Linked DNA regions of Homo sapiens. The protein of the gene in region 1 interacts with the protein of each later gene in a pairwise test. Each region holds a gene or a part of one and is shown in the gene's direction. Other genes may lie near its edges. The genes, in order: TTC23, SPDEF, ZNF410 and POU6F2.

The links.
Region 2: the proteins of TTC23 (region 1) and SPDEF interact in binary tests that used the Homo sapiens proteins (3 or more experiments, as listed by UniProt).
Region 3: the proteins of TTC23 (region 1) and ZNF410 interact in binary tests that used the Homo sapiens proteins (3 or more experiments, as listed by UniProt).
Region 4: the proteins of TTC23 (region 1) and POU6F2 interact in binary tests that used the Homo sapiens proteins (3 or more experiments, as listed by UniProt).

The regions. Positions count from the first base shown.
Region 1 is NC_000015.10:99,135,822-99,141,620, reverse strand, and holds the end of TTC23 (tetratricopeptide repeat protein 23), read left to right. Parts: exon of another isoform or gene 1-1,876; coding exon of another isoform or gene 1,877-1,925; exon of another isoform or gene 1,926-2,044; coding exon of another isoform or gene 2,045-2,221; coding exon 2,222-2,304; exon of another isoform or gene 2,305-2,354; coding exon of another isoform or gene 2,355-2,393; exon of another isoform or gene 2,394-3,493; coding exon 3,494-3,611; coding exon of another isoform or gene 3,612-3,660; 3' UTR 3,661-5,034; coding exon of another isoform or gene 5,035-5,184; 3' UTR 5,185-5,298; downstream 5,299-5,799. UniProt on the Homo sapiens protein: Participates positively in the ciliary Hedgehog (Hh) signaling.
Region 2 is NC_000006.12:34,553,330-34,560,296, reverse strand, and holds the start of SPDEF (SAM pointed domain-containing Ets transcription factor), read left to right. Parts: upstream 1-3,967; 5' UTR 3,968-4,368; intron 4,369-6,937; exon of another isoform or gene 6,938-6,967. UniProt on the Homo sapiens protein: May function as an androgen-independent transactivator of the prostate-specific antigen (PSA) promoter. Binds to 5'-GGAT-3' DNA sequences. May play a role in the regulation of the prostate gland and/or prostate cancer development.
Region 3 is NC_000014.9:73,924,829-73,931,868, forward strand, and holds part of ZNF410 (zinc finger protein 410), read left to right. Parts: intron 1-2,278; coding exon of another isoform or gene 2,279-2,400; intron 2,401-6,674; coding exon 6,675-6,713; 3' UTR 6,714-7,040. UniProt on the Homo sapiens protein: Transcription factor that binds to the sequence motif 5'-CATCCCATAATA-3', and is specifically required to silence expression of fetal hemoglobin in adult erythroid cells.
Region 4 is NC_000007.14:38,980,894-38,987,933, forward strand, and holds part of POU6F2 (POU domain, class 6, transcription factor 2), read left to right. Parts: exon of another isoform or gene 1-613; intron 614-3,356; exon of another isoform or gene 3,357-3,512; intron 3,513-3,983; exon of another isoform or gene 3,984-4,028; intron 4,029-7,040. UniProt on the Homo sapiens protein: Probable transcription factor likely to be involved in early steps in the differentiation of amacrine and ganglion cells. Recognizes and binds to the DNA sequence 5'-ATGCAAAT-3'. Isoform 1 does not bind DNA.

The DNA.
Region 1 (5,799 bases):
TCACACTTTTTTTTACTCAAGCTATTTATGTAGCACAATTCATCCGATTTTTAAAAAATATATTATGAAACATTTGTTATGCAGAAAAGTATGGATAACATAACAAAGACCTTTGAACTCACCATTCAGTATAAGAAATAAAACATGACCCATCCAGTTGAAGTCCCCTCTATACCTACCCCATCCCCAGATAACTACTTTTTTAAATTTGATATCATTCCCATGCTCTTCTTATTTTACTATGGTTTTGTTTTGCATGTTTTAAAACTTCATATTAAATTATAATACATATTATATGCATTCATCTGTCGTTTTCTTTTTCCCCTTGACTTTGTAATCATGAGATTCATCTATGTGGTTATATATACACATACATATATCAAACATTTATATATCACATACATATATAATATATACATATCACAGTTTACATATTCATTACTAAATATTGCTAAATTGTTTTACAAAGGGGCTATACCAGTTTGAATACCCACTATCAATATATAAAAGAATTCTTGTTGCTTTGTATCTTTAACAAAACTTGGTAGTTTTTGCAGTCTGGTGGGTGAAATGGTACCTACCTCATTGAGGTTTTAGTTTGTATTTCTGGTTGTTAATGAGATTAAGCATGTTTATTTCATCAGATTTCAACTCTTTGAATAATCTGTTTATATCTTTTGAGTGTTATTCTATTGAGAGGTTTTGGTTTGGTTTGGTATTTCTCATTACCTTATAGGAATTCTTCATGTATTCTGAATGTTAAACCTTTCTCATTTCTGTGCACTGCAAGAATCTTTCCTCAGCGTGGCTTGTCTTTCTACTTTGCTTATGGTGAATTTTGGTGCACAAATATTTTAGGTTTTCACATAGTTACATTTTATCAGTCTTTCACTTTTGCTTTGTCTAGATCTTGTCTAAGAAATACTTCCCTACCTCAAGATCGTATTTTCCGGTCAGGCATGGTGGCTCACTCCTATAATCCCCGCACTTTGGGAGGCCAAGGCAGGTGGATCACCTGCAGTCAGGAGTTTGAGACCAGCCTGGCCAACATGGTGAAACCTCATCTCTACTAAAAATGCAAAAATTAGCTGAGTGTGGTGGCGGGCACCTGTAATCTCAGCTACTCGGGAGGCTGAGGCAGGAAAATCACATGAACCCAGGAGGTGGAGGTTGCAGTGAGCCAAAATCACCCCACTTGCACTCCAGTCTGGGCGACAGAGTGAGACTCCATCAAAAAATATATATATATATATTTTCCAGTATTTTCATCTAAAAGCTCCAAGTTTTGCATTTCACACTTAGTCCTTCAAATCTTTCTTGAGCTTAATATTTGTGTTTGATTTGGGGTAGTGATCCATTTTCTTCCATTTGGAAAACCAGCGGTCCCAGTACCCATTTATTGACTAGCCCACCTCTTCCTCACCAATCCCGCAAGGCCATTTCTGTCATCTGTCAAGGCTTGGGCTCTCTGCCCTGTTCCACTGGTCTTTTTGTCTACCCCGGGTGACAAACATGCTGTCTTAATTACTTTATTTAAAAAAATAAAAGGGTCTTTGGCATTCAGTAAAGCAAGTTCCTCCACCTCTCCACCTCATTCTTTCTCAAAATTATTTTGGCCATTTTGGGCACAACTTTAATCTTTCTCCTCTCCTTGATTTGCCCTAGCCTACTACAAGCAATCAAATGGCAAGACTTAAAGTAAGCAGAAGGGAGAAATCAAGCCAAAGCCAGCCCTGGGTAGTCCATAAGCTGAATATTTGGTTCCTAATAACTAAGACATTGCTGTGTAGTCAAGAGTATAGACAGCCTATATATTAATAAAAGTAGAGTATGTGTTTACAAAAAAAACAAAACTATTTTTTTAAATCTTTTCCAGGCTATAACAAGGGCCACATTTAAAAATAGAAACTGGAGCCCATCCTCTGGTCAGTACCAAGGTTCTTGCCTTTATTTTTAAAAATACTACTTTTAAATCTATTTTTTGCATACAGATAGTCACAGAGAGTTTTGTGAAATAGTGCTAAAACTGTTCACTTTTGCCTAGATCCCTCAGAACATCCAAACCAAAGGTCAGTCACTAGGAGACATCCCAGGAGCATGCTAATTCCATCACAGCAGGGCCTAAGAATGAGGTCATCTTTCTCTCATTCAAGGGAGACCTTAGTTTCCTGCTCTCAGCGACACTTCCATAGCCTCATGATAGCTGCTTGGTGTTCTACAGTGTCTCCAGATCCAGACCCTCTTATATGGACCGCAGGACAAAAGGACTCTGGCCACCCAGCAGGCCATGGGCATGCTGTCCACGTGAGTTGGCGTCCCTCACACTTTCTCTATCTCATTCCCTTTCCATTCAGAATCTCAAGAGAAAGCTGGTTCTAGAAGGTTCTGTGTAACCTTCTCTGGAATGTTTTGCTGACTTCCCATAACTTGCATAAAGGACAAGTTCCTTTGAAACCCGAGTTGTAAAAGATCTTCCTTGCCCAGGTATTTAAAAATAATTCATCCTTTAAGTCAGAAATATATGCTGGATGTTGTCTTCCTGCAGACCAGCCCCTGCAGGCTAAGGCACCTGCTGCAGGGGGAGGGCCCCGGGAATCCCTGTGGCCTCCTGCAGCCCTGCTTCCGGCTTCCCTCTGCCCTCGGATGCCCGTCAGGACTGGAGCCGGAAGGTTCACTGACTGACCTTAAAGGCTGGCCCCTACGTCCTTTCTCAGCCCGAGCAGAGGCCCAGCGCTCTGCCGTGGAGGGCCTACCTCACAGAGCCTGGTCCGCAGAGAGCAGCCCCAGGGCTGCCTGAGTCTGCTCAGGGAAACAGGGCCACAGCCCGGAGCAGACACAACCTGGCCAGCAGGGCGCCATCCCCTTTGAGGGCAGGGAAGGCGAGCCAGGGAGGCCTCCAGTGCAACCCTGACCATCCTCCTCACCCATGTCCTGCTCACCAAGCCAGCTAAGGGTTGAGGGCCTCAGCTCAGTGAGGATGGTCACAGGTGATTTTAAAAGATGGGAGGGGCCAGGCGAGGTGACTCATGCCTATAATCCCAGCACCTTGGGAGGCCGAGGCGGTGGATCACTTGAGGCCAGGAGTTTGAGACCAGACTGGCCAACATGGCAAAACTTCGTCTCTACTAAAAATACAAAAATTAGCTGGGCGTGGTGGCATGTGCCTGTAATCCTGGCTACTCGGGAGACTGAGGCATGAGAGTTGCTTGAACCTGGGAGGCGGAAGTTGCAGGGAGCCGAGATGGGGCCACTGCACTCCAGCCTGGGTGACAGAGTGAGACTCTGTCTGAAAAAAAAAAAATTAAAAAAATAAAAGATGGGAGGAAAACATCTCATGTTTTATGCTCTGTGCTACAATTCTCCTCTCATTTATAGCCCCTACCAAGTCTTCTCATAAATGGGTCTGGGCACCTGCTGGGCAGCAAAGGCTGGATGGGAACGGTGTGGGGGGCTGAGGGGCACCACACTCACCCCACCCTCTGCTTGTCTGCAGGGCCCCCAAGGTTGCTTCGAAGCCAAGGCAGGCATCAAAAGCCAAAGTGGCCTTCTGCACCAGCATCCCTCAGGACACCCTGCTGGGGAAGGCCCGGCCCGGCACAACAGCAGACTGAGGCCCCCACCCTGAAAAAGCCTAGGACATTCCTGGGCACTGTCATTTAGGGTGCTGTACAAATCACCTCCGCCTAGAAAATGGAATTCAACAGTCAGGATACAGATTTCCAAGGCCAACTGTTGGCCCCAACATGCAACAGTGAGACCATAAGCCTCCCGTGGGCCACATTTTGACAGTGGATGCCCTTCAGGGTGATATATGCTATAAAGCAGTTTTCTATCACCTAAGTGGTTTTTCTTGCCAACAAGAATTTTTACCCATCAGCACTACTGTGGCTGAAAAACTTCTCTTCAACAGTTCAGTGCGCCCTGTGCAGGAGTCAGCCCGGCATCTGCTTGTACACACAGCTCCTTGCATAGGTGTGGAGTTAGATCTGGACAGTGAACTTCAGGAAGTCCTTTCTTATAGGAGGCTAATAGGGATTGAGAATAACATGAGAAGAAAACGCTAATAAAGGGAAACCTGAACACGCTGCTGTCAGCATGTGTTTTCAAAGTGCAGCCTGCCTCAGAGTTCTTCGGAGCCTGAAAAGGGGTTTGAGAAAGAGCCCAGTAGGAGGGGCAGGAGGCCGACACACCTGACTTGGCCTGGGGCCCAGGAGGCAGGTGTAAGGGAGTGAAAAGAAAGGCTAGCCGGAGGCTGCGGGGGGAAGACCGCAGACTCCCTGCTGCTTCGCATCCCTCCTGTGGCCTCCACTGCAGGCAGGACAAACCTGGATGCCACCTGGAGCTGCTTCCTGAGTTGGCACACTATCGTGTACACAGCAGTCTTCAGCCCCCTGGAAGGAGGCCATAGTCGTGTGAGGATGGCAAAGTCGAACAGGAAGCTTTGAGTGCCTTCCTCCACGATGTCAACGAGGAGATCCAGTGCCAGATCGAGGTGGATGGAACACCCAGGGGTAGGGGTGCAGGTGTGGGCAGTGATGTCCCTTCCCCTCCCTCCCCTGGTCCCACAGACTGTGGCCATGAGGCTGCAGGCTGGTGCTATGACAGCAGATTGCAGCACAGGGCCCTCCCCTCCAGCCCCCAGTGGGACATCAAAACCACCCTGGGGCCATTTGTGCAGGGCACCACCTCCAGTATTGATGGGGAAAATAAACTCAGTAGAGCCACGACAGGGTGGAGAGAAGCAGGGACCATTGTCTTCCTCAGGAGCGTGACAGCTGACCCCACAGACCATGCTTGCTGGTACACACTGGTCCCAGACCCAGGCCTGTCGGACATCAGCAGTGTGCTAAAAACGTGTAAGATGTCACTACTCACCGTGTGTCCTATCTAGTTGACATGGGTGGAGTCAGCTAAGGGGTGAATGTTCATATGCTCCCAATTCACGTTGAAGCCCTAATCCCCAAAGGGATGGTATTGGGGGTGGGGTCTTGGAGAGGTGATTAGGTTATGAGGGTGGAGCCCTGATGAATGGGATTAGTGCTTTATAAGGAGAGACACCAGAGAGATGATCTCTCTCTCCACCATGTGAGGACACAGTGAGAAGACAGCCGTCTGCAGGCCCGGAAGAGAGCCCTCACCAGGAAATGAAACTGTTGGCACCTTGAGACTTCCCAGCTTCCAGAACTGTAAGAAATAAATGTTTGTTGTTTAAGCCTTTCAGGCTACGGCTTTCTGTTACAGCAGCCTGAACTGAGAGTCCATGCCGAGTTTTTGAAATAAATGTGAATTCTGATGTTACTTCTTCCTTTCTGTACTTCTTGAAGCGTAGCTTGGAATCACAAAAACTAAAACACATTTTTAAAATTTAGCGCCCCCACCCCACCCCACCCCAGGAAGCAATGAATTTAGGAATGTTCCCTCCAATGTCTCCCATCTGTTAATTCTGTTGACTTCAACGAGAGGAAGACTATAGCTACTTGTGTTTTTCTATTTTTGGTAAAGGGCTACAAGGTTACAAACGGGTAAAGATATCTAGCTATTCCTTTGTCTCAAACTACCTCAGTTTTTTCAAGCCCCTAAGAAATGGCCATGCCTTAGGGTTAACCCTCCAATTTGCACTTATAAGGTAACCAACTGTCCTGGTATGCCCAGGACAGTCCTGGTTTTAGCACTCAAAGTACCACATCCCAAGAAACCTCTCCATCCCAAATGGGATGGTTGGTGGTGTCCTACTGCCACTAGTCATTCAGGCTGTGATGATGACATTTTTACCACAAATTGTCCAGTGTATATTTGATT
Region 2 (6,967 bases), on another chromosome or scaffold:
AAGGATGGGGGTTCTCTCCACCAAAATAGGAGGGACTCAAGTCCATTTGAACGACAGAAAAAGGGAATGGCAGCTTCATCCAGGTGTTCCCACGGCGATGTCAGGAGGGCGTCTGGCTCCTCCTCTTCTGGGCTGTCCCTATTCTCCCTGGGGGTAGCAGCTCCTGACTTAACACGTCAAGGCTTGGAAACTCTAGTGGCAAGAGATAATTTGTTATCTCAGTAGGCTGGAGAAAAGTTCCAGGACAGAGTCACACTGAGCCAACTGGGGTTGTGTACTAGACCCCAGATCTGGAAGGGGTGGACATGGAGCAGGCATCGCCCACAACAGATGGGTGGGGTCTGGATGGAGGGCAAACAGGAGGGGGCACATTTAACCTGATGAGAGCTGGCCAGAGGAGGATTAGAGAGGAGTCCAGCCCAGGGAGCTGGAGGCAGGAAGTCTAGTGGACCCAGTGACCTGTTCCAGGGACCCGGGACTTGGCCCTGAGAGGACGTGAGAGTAGCAATAGGGTTTTACTGGGCATGGGGCAGTCATGGAAATTAGGGATTTGAGTTTGAATCTGCTTCCCAGCTGTGACCTTGGGCATGACATTTTAAATGTACAAGCCTGAATTTCTTCACTTGAAAAATGGGCATATACCTGGCCCAGTGGCTCACGTTTTTGGAGGCCGAGGCAGGTGGATAGCTTGAGGTCATGAGCTCAAGACCAGCCTGGTCAACATGGCGAAACCCCGTCTCTACTAAAAATACAAAAATTAGCCGGGCGTGGTGGTGCGTGCCTGTAATCCCAGCTACTCGAGAGGCTGAGGTAAGAGAATCACTTGAACCCGGGAGGCAGAGGTGGCAGTGAGCTGAGACTGCGCCACTGCACTCCAGCCTGGGTGACAGAGCAAGACTCTGTCTTAAAAAAAAAGAAAAGAAAAGAAAAGAGAAATGGGCATAGCAACATCTACCTGTGAGTGTTGCTGTGAGGAGTAAGATGGCATTTGTCAAACACGTGGCCAGGTTGGTGGTCAGCAAGGCCCTGGAATAGGGCAACCAGGTTCATGGAACACTTTGACCAGCATTTTCTCCCTCCTCACAGTAACTCTCAGGGTTCTCTGGATTTGGGAGGTGACTGTTCAGCAGATTTCAGACACTTGCCTAAAGTCACAAAGCTGGAAAATTACAGAATCAGGACATGTACTTGATCAAATCCCAAGCTGGTGCCAAGACACCATGCCCGGTGGATCAGGGGGTCAAGAGGATGTGTGTCACCCAGAGTTCCCTTATTGGGAAAGTTGGCCTTTCCTCCCCTGAAGCCCACCAGCATTGCCTTAGATGGGCATCCAACCCACCTTGGGCACACCACTGATGTCCACCCCAAGCAGCCTCTTGGAGGCTGGGCCTGTGTGAGCCCAGCTGAGCAGATGGGGGAGCCCTCCCTTGCTCCCTCTTGGTGGACCTTTTCCAGCTTCCAGAGGCAACATTTGTTTCCCTACTCCAGGCTTAAATGGGTAGAGACCCTGTCCACAGCCAGTACAGTTTAGCTGGGCCCATCCATTCAGGAGACCCCTGTGAAATGCTCCCTTGGGCCTTGAGTGAGGCCACACCAGTAAGAATTCCCACTTAACAAAAGTGAAAAGTCCATTTCTCTCATAAAAGTCCTAAGGCAGGCAGTCTGCAGCTGGTATGGAGGTTTTACATAATCCTGAGAGACCCAGGCTCCTTCTAGCTTGCTGCCTACTCTACTATCTTGTCCTCATGGTCTAAGATGGCAGCCAGAATGCCAGCTATCACAGCTGCATTCCACCCAGCAAGATGGAGGAAGGATAAATAAGAATGGAGTTAATGGTACATGCCAGCTTACTTTTAAGAAAGATTCCTAGAAATCTTGGCACATGACACTTCTGCTTTGTCATATAGTCACATCTAGCTGCAAGGGAGGCTGGGATAGTCTTAATTCTAGGTAGCCACGTGCGCAGCTAAAAACCAGGCCTTGGCCAGGTACAGTGGCTCATGCTTGTAATTCCAGCACTTTAGGAGGCCGAGGTACAAGGATTGCTTGAGGCCAGGAGTTCGAGACCACCCTGGGCAACATAGAGAGACCCTGTCTCTACAAAAATAAATAAAATAAAAAATAAAAATCAAGCCTTGTTTACTGAGGAAAAGGGGAGAATGGACAGCTATCTTTGACACCTTATCCACTCAATAAACATTTTTTTTTTGAGCTTCGCTCTATTGCCCAGGCTAGAGTACAGTGGCACGATCTTGGCTCACTGCAACCTCTGCCTCCTGGGTTCAAGCGATTCTCCTGCTTCAGCCTCCCAAGTAGCTGGGATTACAGGTGCCTGCCACCACGCCCAGCTAATTTTTTGTATGTTTAGTAGAGACGGGGTTTCACCACGTTGCCCAGGCTGGTTTTGAACTCCTGATCTCAAGTGATCTGCCCACCTTGGCCTCCTAAAGTGTTAGGATTACAGGCGTGAGCCACCGCACCCAGCCTCAATAAACATTTATTAGATATTCCTTGTACTTACCCACATTATAGTACTTACAGTATGATTAATAGCTTAGCATCTCATGAGCATCGAACATACAGGCATACAGTAGGTGCCTGTTAAGCAGTGGTCATTAGTATTAATGCATCAGAATGCTGTGATATAAGCCAGGCTTCTGTGAGAGTGGGGAGGAGGGAGGCGTGGCCACCAGAGAAGCAGGCACAAAAACGCACTCTAGGGGAAGGAGATCCACCTGGAAACGCAGCGTGTCTTTCTTTATTGACCCTGGAGGGCTGGACCATTGGGGATTAGGAGTGGTCGAGTGTACCATTTCAGGACCTTGTGTTACCTCCCCTTCCTCCGCTCCATCCTCCCTCAACCTTCTCTGGGGAATGACTGATAACTGATCCTCAACCAAGGTGCCAGTGACGATAACAGCCAAGTACAGGGCTCCCTGGGGGTGCAAAGTGCAACCTTACGTTGGAGAATGTGGGTATTGGTGAAGGTGAGGGGCTAGTTCTAAAGGCCTTGGGATCCCCTGCAGCCCCAGAATCCTCATGCTCTCGGCAGTTACACAGTTACTCCTGAAACAAGAGAAAAATCAGCATTATCTAGAACTTTCTCCCGTCAGAATGGAGGTAGCAGGTACGTGGAGCCCTTCTGAGATGATTTGGAGAAAGGAAGGCCCAGCCTCCAGGGACAACTCTCAGCCCACCTGGCAGGACATGGAGGAAGCCAAAAGCTGGACTGTGTGGCCCCCGCAGGGCTCAAGGAGGTGGAGGGTCTGGGGCAGCAAGTGCTTGGTGGTGGGTACCTCTGTCCTGCGTGGCATCCCTGCCATCACCCTTTGGGGCTATGGGAGAGCAAGTTGCTGCTGGCTGGCCCCCGATTACGGGCCTGGGAAAGCGAGCTAGGAGTCCTTCCTCACCGCCACTGTGTGACAGGTCTGCATGAGGACCCTGTGGGGCACAGAGAACACAGTTCCCACCAGGTCGTGGTTGGCCCACAAGCCTCGGGATCCCTCCCCAGGGTTCTCTGAAGCTCTCTCCATCCCTGGCCTGAGTAGCCAGACAGCACCTCCTCCAGGAAGCCCTCACTGATTTCCCTAGTTGGTGCCCACCCTCAGTGCCCCCTCAGTCCTCCATCTGGGCATGGGTGGTTCTGGATCTCCACTGCTGCTCACTTGTCTGTCTCTGGCCCTCAGCTGATCCATCTTAGAACCCCAGCCCTGGACCCACTCGACGTATCTCTGGCGCCTTGCACGTAATATGAGCTGAGTGGCTATGCAGCAACCAATGAACGAGTGAATGAGCGAGTGAATGAATGAGTCCCCTAGCTGTCAGGGCATGGATCCCCCAGCAAGGAGGGGGAGACCTGCAAGGGTTAATCAGGAGCCTGCCTGTGGTCTGAGGTAAGCAAGGAGTGTATTTGTTCAGGTAAATAAGGAAGGATTACTTATAATGGGAAATCAGGCCCTGGCCAACTCTTCATCTCGCGGCTGTCTGACTTCCTCCCAGCACATTCCTGCACTCTGCCGTGTCCACACTGCCCCACAGACCCAGTCCTCCAAGCCTGCTGCCAGCTCCCTGCAAGCCCCTCAGGTTGGGCCTTGCCACGGTGCCAGCAGGCAGCCCTGGGCTGGGGGTAGGGGACTCCCTACAGGCACGCAGCCCTGAGACCTCAGAGGGCCACCCCTTGAGGGTGGCCAGGCCCCCAGTGGCCAACCTGAGTGCTGCCTCTGCCACCAGCCCTGCTGGCCCCTGGTTCCGCTGGCCCCCCAGATGCCTGGCTGAGACACGCCAGTGGCCTCAGCTGCCCACACCTCTTCCCGGCCCCTGAAGTTGGCACTGCAGCAGACAGCTCCCTGGGCACCAGGCAGCTAACAGGTGAGTCCAACAGGAGGTGGGGGTACCCTGGCATGGGGTCTTTCCCTGCCAGCTGGGGGGTGGGCGACTGCAGGCAGGACTTGGAGGGGGCGCACTTTGCCAGCTCAGAGCTCATCTCCCAGTCATCAGTGACCCTGTGACCTGGATCCCTTTACCCTCAGAATTCCTTGCCCCCTCCTCATGCTCCCCAGACTGCCTCTCTGGGCCAACTCTACATGCTGGGTGAGCCCCCTTGCCCGGCAAGGCCTGGGGTCCCCCACACTGAGCCCAGTCTGCCCAGCCTGAGGGGAGGCCGCCGTGCAGATGCAGAGCCCCGGCCCCTGAGACCCAGCCAGTTCTGCTTGGCTGGAGAAACACAAGCGGCTTGCTGCTGCTGCCAACCCAGCTGCTCTGCTGAGGAAAGGGTCTCCCTGGTGCCAGGCCACCAGTGGGCAGGGGCTTGCTGGAGCTTGATGGGTCAGGGCTAAGTCTAAGGCCGGGTCCAGTTCGGGACAGGGGAGACAGGTCCAGAGCCCAGTAGCTGGGCTGGGCAGGGATGGGCACAGGAACCAGGGGGCTGGGGTCACCGCTGAGCACACACTCTGAGCCCTTGGACACTGGGGGAAGCTGAGAGCCTTGGGTCCTGGTCTTGGCACACAAGGAAAGCAACAGTAGCAGTACCTCGAAGGTGCTCATTTCTAAGATTTGCCAGATTTCTGCGGTGGAGAGAGGAAGTGGGTGGTGGGATGACAGGGTGGGAAGCTGAAGGGCCTGGGCGACTGGGTGCCCCTGAGGCTGGTGGAGGTGTGTGCGTGCGTGTGTGTGCGCGGAAGTATGTGTGTGTGTGGTGTGTGCATGTGCGCGTGCGTGTTGCATGTGCATGTGTGTGTGCGTGTGTGTGCATGTTGGGGAGGGGCAGGCCAAGATCCCTCACCTCACCTATCAGCTGGGGCCGCCCAGCAGCCCACACCCAGGCCATGAGCCCCGCGTAGCCTGTGTCCTTTATGATGGCCATGGGCTTTCTCCTCCTCCTCGGCCAGGGCTGGGACTTGCCTCATTTCCTGCCGCAACCTCCCCAATAAAGCTGCATCTCCCCATCACCAGCTGCTCAGCTGAGTAACAAAGCAAACAGGCGTCCAGGCTGCCCCAGGCCCAAGCTGGTGGGCAGGGATGGGGAGGAGACGCCCCACCAGACGGGCAGGCCCAGGCCATGGTTCAGCCAGGCCAGTTGGGCTGAGCTTCCCTCCACCCACCTGCAAGAGGGGCCAGAGCCAAGGACCCCCAGCTTGGAGTCCCACCACCCCAAACTCACAGACAAATGGTGGGGGGCATTCTCGGAGCTCCCAGGCAGGTGGGGCTGTGTGGAGGAGGTGGTCTCACTGCGTAGGGGACCCACCCTCGCCTTTGAGAGGCTGACAGTGCATGTACAAGCATTTCCTCTGAGTGAGGCCCCGTGGGGGTATCCAGAGCTGAAAACTACCAGACTTGCTTATTGCACACTGTCAGTTGTAAAACACTTTGGTTTTCACAAGGACCCTCTGAATTCGATAGGGCTTCTCTGTCAACCAAGTCTGAGGGAATAGGGCTGCACTCAGTAGGTGCTCAGTCGATGCTCAGAAAGTGTGATGCTGGCAGGAAGTGCAAAAACCGGGAGAACCCACTTTTTACCACTGAGGTCGTTGTGAGTATAAAGTGAATAGCCCTGAAACCGTTAGAGCAGTTTTGTGCTAAATGACTTGTTGCAGCCTGAGTATAACCCGGGGAAGTTAATTTAGTCTGACAGGGGGACACAGACCCTCAAGGTGGAGGGCAAGAAGGAACAGGTGAGGTCCCGCCATGTGGGACCGTGGGCGGGTCACTTTTCCTCACTGTACTTGCAACACCTTGTCTGTGAAACAAGGTTAGACAAGGCTATTGCCTGTTAAAGCAGGCTTCACGGAGGAGACAGCCTGGAGCAGGACCTTGAAGGCTGTGTAGGAGTTGGATTTGCCAGCCGGTCTCCTGGGCGTTGGGGGGTGGTGGCGGGTGCGGGGGCCGGGGGGAAGTGGGTGGGGCAGGAATTCTTGGTTCTGGTTCCTCCTAGAGGGCAGGGAGGGTGGGTGAAGCCTGCAGCTGCCTGGACTGGGCTAGAGAACAGGACAGGGCCCCAGCCTCCCTCACCACCATCCTCAGCTCCCCCCAGACTCCACTCTCTCGCCCACTCCCTCTACTCCCCATCACCTTCCGCTTCTTCCTTTGCTCCCCGGCTTCCTCACCCCATTCCCTCTCTCTTTCCTCTTCTCCAGCTGATCCCCTCACCTGTGCCCAGGGCCCCCCTCATGTACACTCAACCCATCATAAATGATTTCCATTCACCCTCCATCTCAATCTCCACAACCCCTTTAAGACATACTCTTGACAGCCCATTTAACAGACAAGAAAAATGAGCCTCAGAGGGGGCTGAGTCACTGGCCCCAGCCCCAGAGCTAGAGAGCAGAGAGTCAGGGATCAAACCTTTTCTGGGACCCTCCCCTGGTCCCCACCCCCACCCCGTTCATGCCCCACCCTGTGCCCCCAGCCAAGCGAGTGGCCTGTCAGGTGGAACAACTCTTCCCAAAGCAAACTTTGCACAAGCCGAGTT
Region 3 (7,040 bases), on another chromosome or scaffold:
ACCACGCCCAGCTAATTTTTTTGTATTTTTAGTAGAGACAGGGTTTCACCATGTTGGCCAGGATGGTCTCGATCTCTTGACCTCGTGATCTGCCCACCTCAGCCTCCCAAAGTGCTGGAATTACAGGCGTGAGCCACTGCACCCAGCCTTCTTCTTTTCATTATAACCTTTATACCACAGTAAGCTGTTGCATCATTCAAATGACTCTGCATCCTATATTGAATATTCTCCATTATTCTCTAATATCTTTGGGGGTACCCAGGATTACAGGGTTCTGGGCATACATGTTAATGCTTTTGCCAGGACTTTTCTTTTTATTGTTGTGACCCATTGTCTTTGCTTATATTTAAAGTTTTTGATCTTGATATCATTGGTTCTTTCCTAAGTCACTTTTTCTGGTAACTGCTTTGGAATGAATCATACATATCTCACTTACGGAGCCTTCCTCTTTCTCCTCCATTTTTCTTGTCTTCATTTTTCTATTTTAAAGCTTTTATTATGGAAATTTTCAGAGTACAGTGAGAGAGAGACTAGTATGATAAACCCACGTCGAAGTCGAAGTTACGGCTGAGAGCGGCAGCTCACACCTGTCTCCTAACTTTGACTTTTTTTTTTTTTTGAGATGGAGTCCCACTGTCGCCCAGGCTGGAGTGCAGTGGTGCGATCTCAGCTCACTGCAACCTCCGCCTCTCAGGTTCAAGCAATTTTCCTGCCTCAGTCTCCTGAATAGCTGGGATTGCAGGCACCCACTACCAAACCCGGCTAATTTTTGTATTTTTATTAGAGATAGGGTTTTACCCTGTTGGCCAGGCTAGTCTGGAACTCCTGACCTCAAGTGATCCACCCGCCTCAGCCTCCCAAAGTGCTGGGATTACAGGTGTGAGCTGCCGCACTTGGCCCTAACTTTGACAGTTAACTTTATGCCATGCTCAGTGGCCCATGCCTATAATCCCAGCACTTTCGGAGGTGGAGGCAAGTGGATTGCTTGAATCCAGGAGTTCAAGACCAGCCTGGGCAACATAAGACCCCTATCTCTACAAAAAATACAAAAAAAAATTAGCGGGACGTGGTGGCATGTGCCTGTGGTCCCAACTACTCGGGAGGCTGAAGTAGGAGGATCACCTAAGCCTGGGAGGTTGAGGCTACAGTGAGCAGTGACTGTGCCACTGTACTCCAGCCTGGGTGACAGAGTGAGACCCTGTCTCAAAAGACAAAAACACAATTAACTTTATACTGTTCTTGTTTTATCTCTTTCCTCCTTTTGTTGTTGTTGCTGTTTATGATGGAGTATTTCAAAGCAAATTGTAGGCATGTCATTTCTTCTGTATATATTTCAGTATATGCCTCTAACAAGATACAATATTAAAAACTATAATATCTTTACCACTTCAAACAAAGATAACAATAATTTATTGTATTCTCTAATAGTCTATGTTCTTTTTTTCCTCCCCCTCAAAAATATCTTATGGTTGGTTTGCTAGAGTCAGGATTCAAACAATGTCTGTATATTGCATTTGTTTAATACTTCTCTTAATTCTCTTTATAATAGTCCTTTTTTTTCAGTATGGTTATCTATTTAAGGAACTGGGTTTTTTGTTTTGTTTTGTTTTTGTTTTTGTTTTGAGACTGAGTCTCACTCTGTGGCCCAGGTCAAGAGTGCAGTGGCGTGATCTCGGCTCACTGCAACCTCTGCCTCCCAGGTTCAAGCAATTCTCCTGCCTCAAGTCTCCCAATTAGCTGGGATTACAGGCACCTGCCACCAAGCCCCACTAATTTTTGTATTTTTAGTAGAGACGGGCTTTTACCATGTTGGCCAGGCTGGTCCCAAACTCCTGACCTCAAGTGATCCACCCACCTCGGCCTCCCAAAGTGCTGGGATTACAGGCGTGAGCCACTGCGCCCGGCCAGGAATTGGGAGTTTTTGTCCTAAAGATTTTCCCACATTCTGGTTTTGGCTGATTGACTCCTTTTGTTAATATTAATTTCTCTATCCACTGTATTTCCTAAAAACTGGTAGTTACATTTAGAGGTTTGATTAGATTCAATTTTTCCCCCTTGGCAAGAATATTTCATAAATGGTGCTCTTGCTTCCTATTACATCTCATCAGGAGGCACATGACAATCAGTTGATCTTAAGATTGACTGGTAGGTTATGTAAAGGTTTTGGCAACCATTACTGATCATAGCCTAGATCTATTTTTCATTAAGGCCTGCAAAATGGTGATATCCTAATTCTCTTGTTCCCTCTGTGTTTATTATGATTTTTTTTTTTTTTGAGGTGGAGTCTTGCTATGTTGCCCAGGCTGGAGTGCAGTGGCACCATCTCGGCTCACTGCAACCTCTACCTCCCGAATTCAAGCGGTTCTTCTGCCTCAGCCTCCTGAGTAGCTGGGACCACAGGCAGGTGCCACCACGCCCGGCTGTATTTTTAGTAGAGACGGGGTTTCACCATGTTGGCTAGGCTGGTCTTGAACTCCTGACCTCAGGTGATCCACCCGCCTCAGCCTCCCAAACTGCTGGGATTACAGGCATGAGCCACTGCGCCCGGCCTAATTGTGATTCTTTTATACAAGAAATACTTCTCTCATCAACCATAGGGTTGCCCTGAAATCGTCATTTCAGGAAAACCATCTCGTTTTTCTTTTACCTAGTACACATTATTATTCGAGCAAGCCAACCCACAGCACCTAGCCTTTTCTTTTTTATATTTGAAACCTCAGAGCTTTTCTCTCCTGTATTGGTAAATATCTTTAAAATTCTCCACGTTACCCAAATAAATGCCAGATGTATGAAAATTTAATTCATTCAGCGGCTAGTTACCACATACCTAGTATGTGTGGGGCATTCTGCAGGGTACTAGTTATACAATAGTAAACAAAATATAGTCTCTGCCTCAAATAGCTTATAGGCAGAATTAGGACCTTCATAACTATATATATGGTGCTGGAGTTGCACTGTACAGTGAGGTTAGGATGGGAGAAGTGACCAATTAATCAACCGGCAATTTTTTTTTTTTTTTTAATTTTTTAGACGGAGTCTCACTCTGTTGCCCAGGCTGGAGTGCAGTGGCACAATCTCGGCCCACTGCAACCTCTACCTCCTGGGTTCAAGCAATTCTCATGTCTCAGACTCCTGAGTAGCTGGGATTACAGGCGGCCACCACCACACCCAGCTAATTTTTTGTATTTTTGATAGAGACGGGGTTTCATCATGTTGGCCAGGCTGGTCTCAAACTCCTGACCTTAGGTGATCCACCCGCCTCGGCCTCCCAAAGTGCTGGGATTACAGGCATGAGCCACTGCGCCCAGCCTAAACTGGCAGTTTTTAAGTGTAGTACGTTCCAGTCTTGGGAGAAGTCAGAGAATATGTTTTAGAGTTTAAGTTGAGATGGGAGGGATGAATAGACATCATCTTGATGGAGAAGTAGGAGTTGGAAGAATATAACAGGCAGAAGGACAGCAGTGTGTACAAAGGTAGAAGGTAAGGGAGTAGAGGGCCTCTGTGGAACTGTAAATAGGGTTGAGTGTGATGGGACATGGGATGAAGAGATGGGCTGGAGAGGAAAATTGAGAGCTGGAAAGATAAGCTAGTCTCTTGAAAGGTCTTACAAGGCATGATTTTATCCTGGGGGCACTGAAGAACCACTGCATGGTTTGAAGTAGGGTATGACGTGATCAGATTTGTGTATTCAGAATATCCAGTAATAGTACATTTGTTCCCTAGAACCTAGGCACAAGTCTTGGAATTGGCCTCAGAGCATCCATGTATAATAGGTGCTGCCCACTTACAGCCTCAGGGAGACAGCATAACACAGGCTGCCTAAAAAACGAAAGACCTGGGTGTGGTGGATCATGTCTATAATCCCAGCACTTTTGGAAGCTAAGGTGGGAGGATCACTTGAGGCCAGAAGTTCGAGACAAGCCTGGACAACAGAGCAAGATCCTGTCTCTACAAAAAGTTTTTTAAAAAATTATCCAGGCATAGTGGTGCATACCTGTAGTCCCAGCTACTCCAGAGGCTGAGGCAGGAGGATCAACTTGAGCCCAGGAGTTCGAGGCTGCAGTGAACTATGATTGTCCCACTGCACTCCAGCCTGGGAGAGATCCTATCCCAAAAATCAAACAAAAAAAGGAAGTATGGTCTTCACTCCAGGAAGGCACAAAACCCAGTTTCATAATGGAAGCCCAAAACACTTAGAAAAATATTAACAACACAAAAGGGAAAGTGCTGTCCTGGATGTAGCTCAAAATCCTGCACTGTCACTTTTTCCTCATGGGTTTTTGTATATTTACAAACATACCCTCTGTCTGAGCCTCACTTCTTTTGTGTTTTCTTCACTTTTAGCATTATTCTCCTCCTCGTATCACAGGCATTTCCACTGCTTATCCCCTCCTTTTCTTTCTTCACTAGTTTGGGTCCTCCAATACCTTCAGTTTTTTTTCAAGCTGTGAGGCCCTCAGGGTTCCAGGCTTAGGCCTCTTCCTCATCCAAGGTCTAGGTAATAACTTGCTATTTCTCCAGTGAGTGAGGAATGTTGATTCCTTAAGAACTTTCAGGTGCCAGAGAAGGTGAAGGCTATTTGCAACACATGTCCGTTTCACCTTTTTTGGAGATCACCAAGCAGTATGGATCAAAGTCTACTGATGAACTTGTACTTCCTGTAAATATGCTCTAAAAATAAAAATAGCTTATCAAGAATATCAGAGAACAACCAAATCTGTTATCAGAAATTTTCATGAGAGGCTGGGTGCGGTGGCTAGCACTTTGGGAGGCTGGGGTGGGAGGATCAATTGAGCTTAGGAGTTTGAGACCAGCCTGGGCAACACAGGAAAACCCCATGTCTACAAAAAATAAAATAAAATTAGCTGGTCCTAGCTACTTGGGAGGCTGAGGTGAGAGGATCACTTGGGCCCAGGAAGTTGAGGCTGTAGTGAGCCATGATCTTGCCACTACACTGCAGTCTGGGTGACAGAGCCAAACTCTTTAAAAAAAAAAAAGAAGAAAAATTACCATGGGAAAAATATCAGAAACTACAAGTCACCTCTCTGGTTCAGGTGGACAATCTCTATTTTCCCTCATTATTGTGCCACATCTGAGAATTAGATGGAGGACTCATTGCACAGGCCCAACTGGGAACCCCAGGGCTTTTGGGCTGTCATACTTACTAAAGGTCATTCTAAATGGGGCTCCATATTTACATTGAGTTCACATTCTTGAACTCAAGAACCAGTATAAGAGATTCCCAGCTAGTTTTGACTACCTCTTAGAATGCTTTCCAAATCAAGGCACAAATAGAAATTACAAATTCTATAATATTTCTCATAAAGTACCTTTGCTAAGTTTGACTGCAAAGATCTGGATCTTGGCCTCCATTAAAAACACACTATTCTTAACTTTCCTGCCACACAGCATCAAATGGAATATGTGGTTTCTTTAAGGTTTAATTTTTTCTTTAGATTTTGTTTAAAAGTCTTTAAATTCCATATAATTAAACTCTTAAAAAAAAGTTTTTTTGGTGGATACAGTGTCTTACCATGTTGCCCAGGCTGATCTCAAATTTCTGGCCTCAAGCAATCCTCCTCCCTCAGCCTCCCAAAGTGGTGGGGTTATAGGCATGAGCCATGGTGCCCAGCCCAATCATTAAATTCTACTGTATAAATTACCTTCATCCAAATTAGGATCACCAAGTAAATACATCTCAAGCTGAAGAATTTATTTGATTAGATTTTAATAAGTTGTTTTTGTTCTGAATTTTACTGAATTGTTCCCATCTCATTTTTGTGTGTCTGAAAACAGTCTCAGTCTGTCACTCAGGCTGGAGTGCAGTGCAGTGGCATGATCATAGCTCACTGCACCCTTGAACTCCTGGGCTCAAGTGATCCTCCTCCCTCAGCCTCCCAAGTAGCTAGGACTGCAAGCATGTACCACCATGCTTAATTTTTAAAATTTTCTTGTAGAGACAGGGCCTCACTGTGTTGCCCAAGTGGGTCTCAAATTTCTGGTCTCAAGCAGTTCTCCTGCCTCAGCCTCCCAAAGTGCTGGGATTACAGATGTGAGCCACTGCACCCAGCCTCATTTTGTTTTTATATTAAAATGGAAGCCAATTTCATTATTTCAAAACTCCTTTGAATAGAGCCTTGTGTATAGAGTAGAATGTTAGTGGTAGTTGCCATTATGCAGGAGTCCCTTAGGCTTATCATTCTTTTAAGCCCAAGGAACCCCTAGATCTTTTATGAGTGGGTTTCAGCTCTCATATAGTACTTATAAAGGAACAGCTCCTCTTCCTATTTCCTTCTCCTACTTGAGCCTTCAGCCTATCCTTTGGCTGACACGTATAAGATTTTGGTTCCACCATTTCTGTTTTCCCTGTAAGTTAGAGATTCCTCTGTCACTGACTGATGAGTAGGTAACTACACAAACAATAGTTTGGCTTATAGACTCAGAATATTTGATTGCCAGAGTTAAAATGCCAGCCTTATGACATGGCTAAAGTGCTGTCCCAAGGCCACAGTGACATCTATCAGTCCGTGCATGTGTTTGCTTTGGAAGTAGATAGCCTTCATTCACCCCTGTAGTGCATTCTCCATCCTCCACTCTTAATACTTTTTACTATGAATTATTTTTTCTATAATTCAACTGTAACCTATTCTAGATTTGCTTTCAATCTTTTACAGTTACTAAACCAAGGAGATTTAACTGAAAGACGGACATGAGCGTGGGTGCTGACTCCTGGAAGAGCAACTCTATCTGATCTCAAAATGCGTATACTGGGAACAGGATGCCTTAGCCCACAACAGAACCAGAATGAATCTTTGAAGGCACAAGACTCTGCTTTTGCCACTCTTCCTCTTTCCTGGTATAGAAGATGGATGTAGGAGAGCTTCTTTTCTAACTACCATCTGATCAGACAAGGAATGAAGCAATGACTGTGGGCTGGGAAACTGTACCTACCTCTCTTCCCACTGCAAATTTCTGGGATAGACCAAAAGTGAATTTGATTATGTGTTGGCTGAAGTTCTTCATTCTGACTGTTGAGGGGA
Region 4 (7,040 bases), on another chromosome or scaffold:
CCATGATCCAGCTCAGGACACAGCGCTGGCTTCACAGAGTAGAAATTGCTCATATATGCCTTTCCCCTAGGATTTCTCCTCCCCCAAGCAAGCAATTAAGCAGTCTAGTACTTGGAAGAACAAACTCCCTGCCTAGTATATCAAGATGAAGAAACTTGGTTCATTCACACAATTTTTGGAAATCAAATCAGATTTCTGATAGCAATTACCTGTAGTTAGCTTCCTAACCCCTTGAAGGTAGGATGGATTGTTATTCATGGGATGATTTTCAATTCAATTCAATTACACAGTTAATCAGTTTCTGATCGTTGGTTTGATTATCATTTAGAAATGAAGACTTGCATTTCCATCTCTTATGGCCATGTTTAGTGCTTCGTTTCTTTTTTTTGCAGACCTGAGCTTGTGAGTGACAGATTAGTTCATCAGTACTGCGGACCTCCTGTTTTTGTTTTTTCTCATCTCATACAGTCGGGTCACTGTGTCCAATACTCCTTCTGGCACTGCTGTCCCCAGAGGACTTAGGCAGCCCACCATCCTGATGCACAGGCCTGAGGGTCCCTGTTGGCTTCACGTCTATAGACTGACTTTTGCAAATATTGCAGAACAGAGGATATTAAATTAGTTGTTAATAAAAACAACAGATGAACCAAATTAGATGAAAATATTTATCAAGTATATCTAAGAGTTTGCTGGGAGTGAGAGAGAGACAGCTGGATAAAGTGATCATGGATGCACTTCCAGTTGACATTGCTAAAGTACTAGTAGAAGAGAGAAGAGACCACACATTCTATATTTTAATAGCATTAGAAGTGCAGTAAAAAGCTGTTTACAATTTCCCTTACTGGTACAATGGGTCTTTTATTTTTCAAAGTACATTTCGACCATGTGAAGTGTTGTAAAGTTGTACATCAGAAAACTAATGCAAATGTCTCAGACAGTGCTCAGTATGTGTGCATGCATTTGGCTTAACAGTATCTCCATGTATGTTTTCTTATATGGAGATTTTAAAACACACAAATATTTCACCGTTATAGCATCAAAACAATTAATTTTACATAGAGGTTTGTTTATACCATCCCTTGTTCCAAAAAGTATTTAATGTAGATTTAATAATAATTTGCTTACCTAAAATATGCTCAAATTGATGTGTGATGCAAGTGGTCTAGGGAGAGGGGACACTGGCTCTCATAACACATTTGAAGATTGCCCTCTGTCAATTTAGACTGATATTCGTGCCTTACATATAAAAATGAAACACTGGGGCTAACCTAACCCTGTTTTACTCATGTGAAGCATAATTCCCATATACTCTTAAAAAAAGTCATTTTTGTGGGTGTGAATGCCTGTATTTTTGAAACTGACAGATTGCTTCAACAAATTTATGTATTTTGGGAGTGTGAAATTATTACTGCTTTAATTTTATTGAGAATACTTTTTCCCCAAGGTATTATGGATGGATGGTATACTAGAAAAAATACAGATTAATTAAGGATTATTCTTTCTTATACATACTGGTGCTAGTATTCTTTTGGTAAGTTCCAGACTGACCAAAATTGAATTTGTACTATGTATTGTTTATTGACCTAAAAAACTTCACTTAATATTTCATTCATACTTATAGGAAAGTCTTATGTTAACATTTTACATTTCACCAGATGGACTTAATTTTTATTATGTTTAGAATTTTTAAAAATTAAAGCAGACATTTAAATGGTAAAGTCAATTTTGTCCATTTAAGTAAAATTTAACAATATAGTAATACTACTATCCAATAATGTTAATACTAAACAACAATTAGATGAACTTGGGTCTTGAAACTAAATTTTCTTTTCTATCTCTAAGGTCAATTAATGAAACTCTCTGTACCATTCAATTATCATTTTCAATGCTTAAGAACTTAAAACTTTTTTATTCTTACCTCTAACATATGCAGAGAGGTGGCTGCAACTTTTAGAATACAAATGCTTACAAAAGAAAGTTTGCATGTAATAAGTTTCCTGCGTGTAAAATCTATAATATTTGTTTCAGAGGTCAGTGAAGGATGTTTCTTCACTGACCTTTTCTTTGCTATGTAAACTGCATATTACCAGTTTCAAGTATTTTTCTCTTTATTGCTTACAAAAATTGGAATATAATTAACATGTCTGCAAATACTGAAAAACTTCACTTTTCAATTGCATTGTGATATTGTACAAGCTGTTACTCTTTTCTAATGCTTGATTGAGTAGAAAATAAAGTTGGGACATAAAGTGCAAACATGAAAGGATCAGACTTGAAGAAACAATGTGCAAAAAGATAAATATTGACTTTAATTTGAACGCTAAAAGAAAATCCAAATTACACAACTTCTAAATTAATTTGTAATTTATGGCCAAATCTTTACTTGGGAGATAATAGCTGCTCTATATATAATCTCAAACCTGGATTTATGTTCTTTTTCCCTTCCCTCCCTCCCTACATCCCTTTCTTCCTTTCTGCTTTTGTTCCTGCCTCCCTCCTTTCTTTTTTTTTTTTTGTAGGTGAAATGTGTATCCAATAAAGTAAATTACCAACTCAAGTTTGCTCTGTTAGCCTATGTAAATTGCTCTGTTGAGCCATATTGTCTTAAACTGATCCAAAATTGTAATCAAGATTTGTACCAGTTTTGCTTTTTACACATTTCTTCTGCATCTCAATTTGAAGAAGCGGTTGCGAGTGAAACACTATCACTACATTTCAGTAAAGATTTATTTTTCTTTTTATTATTTTCTTGTTCTTCCCAGTTCCACAATGTGAGCCAATTGTGGTGAATATTGCTTAATTTTTACTGGAAAAATTCCTTCCTGGTTTTCTGTATGCTTGTGTTATTTTTCCACACCCCACTTATAAATGATCATATTATTGTTATTTCAGGGATAGCACTTCTCATAAACGTAAAACCATTGTATGTAAGTAATAGCAAAATAATTGAAAACATCTTTGATTATTTACATTAAAGGAAATTCTCTAGGTTTTAAAACACTTGTTTTTCAGGTTGGCTGGTCTTCAGAAAATAGCTTTTTGTTTTATCAGTAGCTTTAAAACCCCCATGGTATGAAAGATTCTTTCTTCAAAAGACAGACATTAGCTGTTGATACTTGGCACTGATTCTAGGTGAAATGCAACCCTATTCCTTTCAACAGCACTTTTTTAATTATAAGACAAAAAAAATTGAAGATCAACTGAGTATTCTCACTTTCACCTATTTTCAGCCTTCCCCCGACCCAGGAGGTACATTTTTCCCATGGGAAAAAGTACCCACATAATTTCCAGCACTTCCCTAGTCCTAGGGTCAAAGATGCAAATAAACGTGTTGACACCTTTAATGAAAAGGATATAGTCGCTCAAAAGTATTGCTCTGACATTTTGTTCTCCTTCTTCACTGCCATTTCTCCATCAGCTTTTCTTCTCTTTTCCACTGTGAACCAGAGTCAGTTTGATGAGTAATAAGTGAAAAGCGAAATCTTTGTGGGCTTCCCAGGCAGGAAAGGGCACTGGAAAGAGAGACAAGACCTCGAGCAAAACAAAGCAAAAAGGCAGCAGAAAACTCACCAATATACTTGCTTCTTTAGTTTATATTTCTAAGTTATTTTGTAAGCTTACCTCATCTCACCTAGCAATTCAAATCACACACAAAAAATACAGTGAAATAATACGTTAGCACAGGAAAACTAGAATTAAAAAACAAAGTCTAAGAAAAGGCCTCACAGTGCTTGTGCTGTACACAAATTTCAATATTAAGGAAAACTTTTCTTTAAATCTTTAGAGTTTTTACAAGAGGTTAGCCAGTGCTCCGATGCTGTGAAATAGTACTTATTATTTCTGGAGTTTAATATGATGTTGACCCTGCATATTTTATGACTTTGATTTTTGATGAATAATTTAAAACTATTTTTAGAAGAAAATATTTATCTCTAACATCTAAAAACTTAGAGAAACAGGTATATTTTTAAAAGAATACATACCTGTTAAATGGTGTTTTTAGCATTGATCAGAACTCAGGCAAATTCCTGTTCAAAAGAACAAAGCACAACATTTATAGGGAGCTTAGTTTTCAGTGCAGAATTCATATACAGATTTTTTTAAAGGAAGTAGGTTTTTGTTGAGAGTAAAAGGTAAATATTGTACCAAGACAGAAGCAAGGATACCAGAAGCCGTAATTGATACTGAGGAAATATGAGAAAAGTAGATATTTCTTAATTCTTCAGTTCTTTTCCTCCAAATTGGAAGGGCAGAATGGGCAAGAATGGAGCTGGACACACAATAGTAGGGACTATGGCACGCCAAACTTGCTTCAGACACAGCTAGTTAATTTTGTAAGTCTTAAATAATACTAGAAAACAAGCCTCTTTCAACCTTTTCTCCAAAAGGTTGAGAGTTAGGACAAATGTAAAATGCTGCTTAATGGGCACAAATAAAACAAGAACATCAAACTCATTTCACTTAGTGTCAGTCCTGATGATTCATCATTATGGTCAGGGCGAACTCTGGTCTTTGGGCCGAAACAATTTTATCCATTAAAAAAAAATCCAGAATGTTCCAGCTTGAATCTTATATCCTTAGGGTTACAATATTGAATTCCGAATCGGGAAACTTAATCTTGCAGCCAGATTTGACAAGATGCTGGTTGAATGGTGGGCAGAAGTGATGATTGTGGGATGAAATGCCCTAGGTCAGAATTTGAGAAAAATAAGAGATTTTGTGAAAGTTTGGCTGTGATATAAGAATGCCAAGTTTGAAAATTTCTCTCTGTTCATATCAGCAGATGGTGTTCCAGGGTCTTAAAAGTAAATCTCTGCTGTATTCATTTTCTCTGTTTCAATATTTCTTGAACAAAGTGAGTCTTTACACATTCTTAGGTGCATTTCTTGGTGTATTTCTAGAACTGCTAATACAAGAGGTGTTTGTAGTAATATTCAGAAGGTTTCTGGGAACGAAGGCTAATATGGCTCAAATCCCAAACAGTCCTACATTGTTCCTAGGTAATATATTAATCCTCAATTCAAGAACTAAAGTTGTGATTTCTTTTCTGAAAACTTTTTTCATTTGTAAACAAACCTATATCTAGATTCCTAGTGACGAAAGAATTTAGAGTAAAAATGAAAATGAGGCAGTCTAGCAATCTAATTCATTAACACACACGCACACTCACAGACATACTTTAAACATTTTGGGAATACTTGACTATTTAACCTCTAATAATCTAAAAATATTTTGTCTCTGTTTTCAATCTTAGTACCTGAAAAAATTATGACAGATGTTTACTTAAAATACTCCTCTCAACTTGGTTGAGAATGGAAAAATACTTTGCAACTTTTTTGTTTTTGTTTTGAGATGAGGTCTTGCCATGTTGCTGAGGCTGGCTGTGAACTCCTGGGCTCAAGAGACGCTCCCACCTCAGCCTCCTGAGTAGTACTTTGCAGCTGTTAAACATCAAGTTTGTGGTAAGAATTCGAGTACATAGTCGATTGGAAAACTGCAAACGTATGAATATTGTGGTTATTTCCTTCCAAAAACAGGGGGGCTCTTTGGTTTGCAATGTACTGCCATTTGTACTAGTGCTGAAACCTATCAACTGCAATTGCTTTCTCCCTTTCTACCTTTATTTATCAAATAGAATTTAAACAGCTAGTTCAGGCAGAGAGTGGAACATCTGAGTAAAAGTGACAGTACATGAACGCAATTCTTATATGCACGTGATTGAAGTGAGTTAATTACATGGTAGACTCCTATGAGTATTTTTGAATTTTTTACTAAAAAATTATAACAGTAATTTCTGCATATGGCAAACCATTGCAATAGCACAGAATAATATAAAGTGGAAAGTAAAGTATCCTGATTCCACTCGCCACAAATAACCACTGTTAACTATTTCTTATATATCCTTCCAGAGATTTTCTGTGCATGTATATGCAATCCTTACACAACCCAAGTAGAACTATACTATACATAGAGTTCTGCAACTTACTTTTACATATAAAAAATATTTTGAACCTCTTCTCATGTGACTATGAATAGATCTGCATCCTTCTCTGTAGTACTCCCTTTTATGGATATACAGTGATTTATTTAACCAGTTCTCTCTTGATCTAGCTTTTAAAAATAAGTTAGTCTCTGCAATCAGTCTAACAAGTAGAGAAGTTTCATTTCTCTTAACATAAAAGATTTCAGAATTTTCCAAATAGGATTTGTTTGAGCAGAAGAACTCATAAATAGTGTCTCCTGAGAGAAGGTTAAGTGTAATGTTAAAAGTGAAGAGTAGCTTTATGCCACAAGAAAAGATACTTATCATCTATATATTGAATACTCAAACCAATTAAAATAGCAATAAAGATCACAATATTTTATTTAGTAACAAAGAGGTAAGAATGACAGAGAATGGCGTAAAGAGCTGGTTCTCAGTCAGACACACTGTGACTTGAAAACCTTTATGTTTGCTCCAAGCCACCAAACTCAACTGAACAAAATGCTTGTTATTTTCTTTCATGAGCCTCAATGCTGTTTATTAAGATAATTGACATAGATGTATGTTTCCAATGCATGATTCAGTTAGTGTATCTAGATTAGTGAAAAAGAGACCAGAAGAAATTCATGGTAATTAATGTCAGTTAAATTTCTGTTTTCTGTATTTCATATTGTCAGACCAATCCTTCAACCCTGATTCATAAGTTAAATAATGCAGTCACAAGCAGGGCTAAATAAAAACATGTAATGAGACTTAGCTCTTGAATTCTACTAATTTAGGGTTCTGAGAAGGTAGACAAAGTGTACATTATTGAAATATTCCAGAGAATGTAAAAAGTTATGTTTTACGTTTCTTTTAGGATATGTCTCTGCTCGTTCTCTTTAATTACGTCACCTCACATATACTAAGAAGACAGTAACGTAGGTGGTAATGAAATCTTATATTTGAATAAAAGATGGGAGTGTGAGCTGACCATGCCATCTTTCCCTACACAGACTTCCAGAATTGAGCCTATGGAACTGTCCATTGGGTAGGTGTGTTCTTTTTCCCTCTTGTT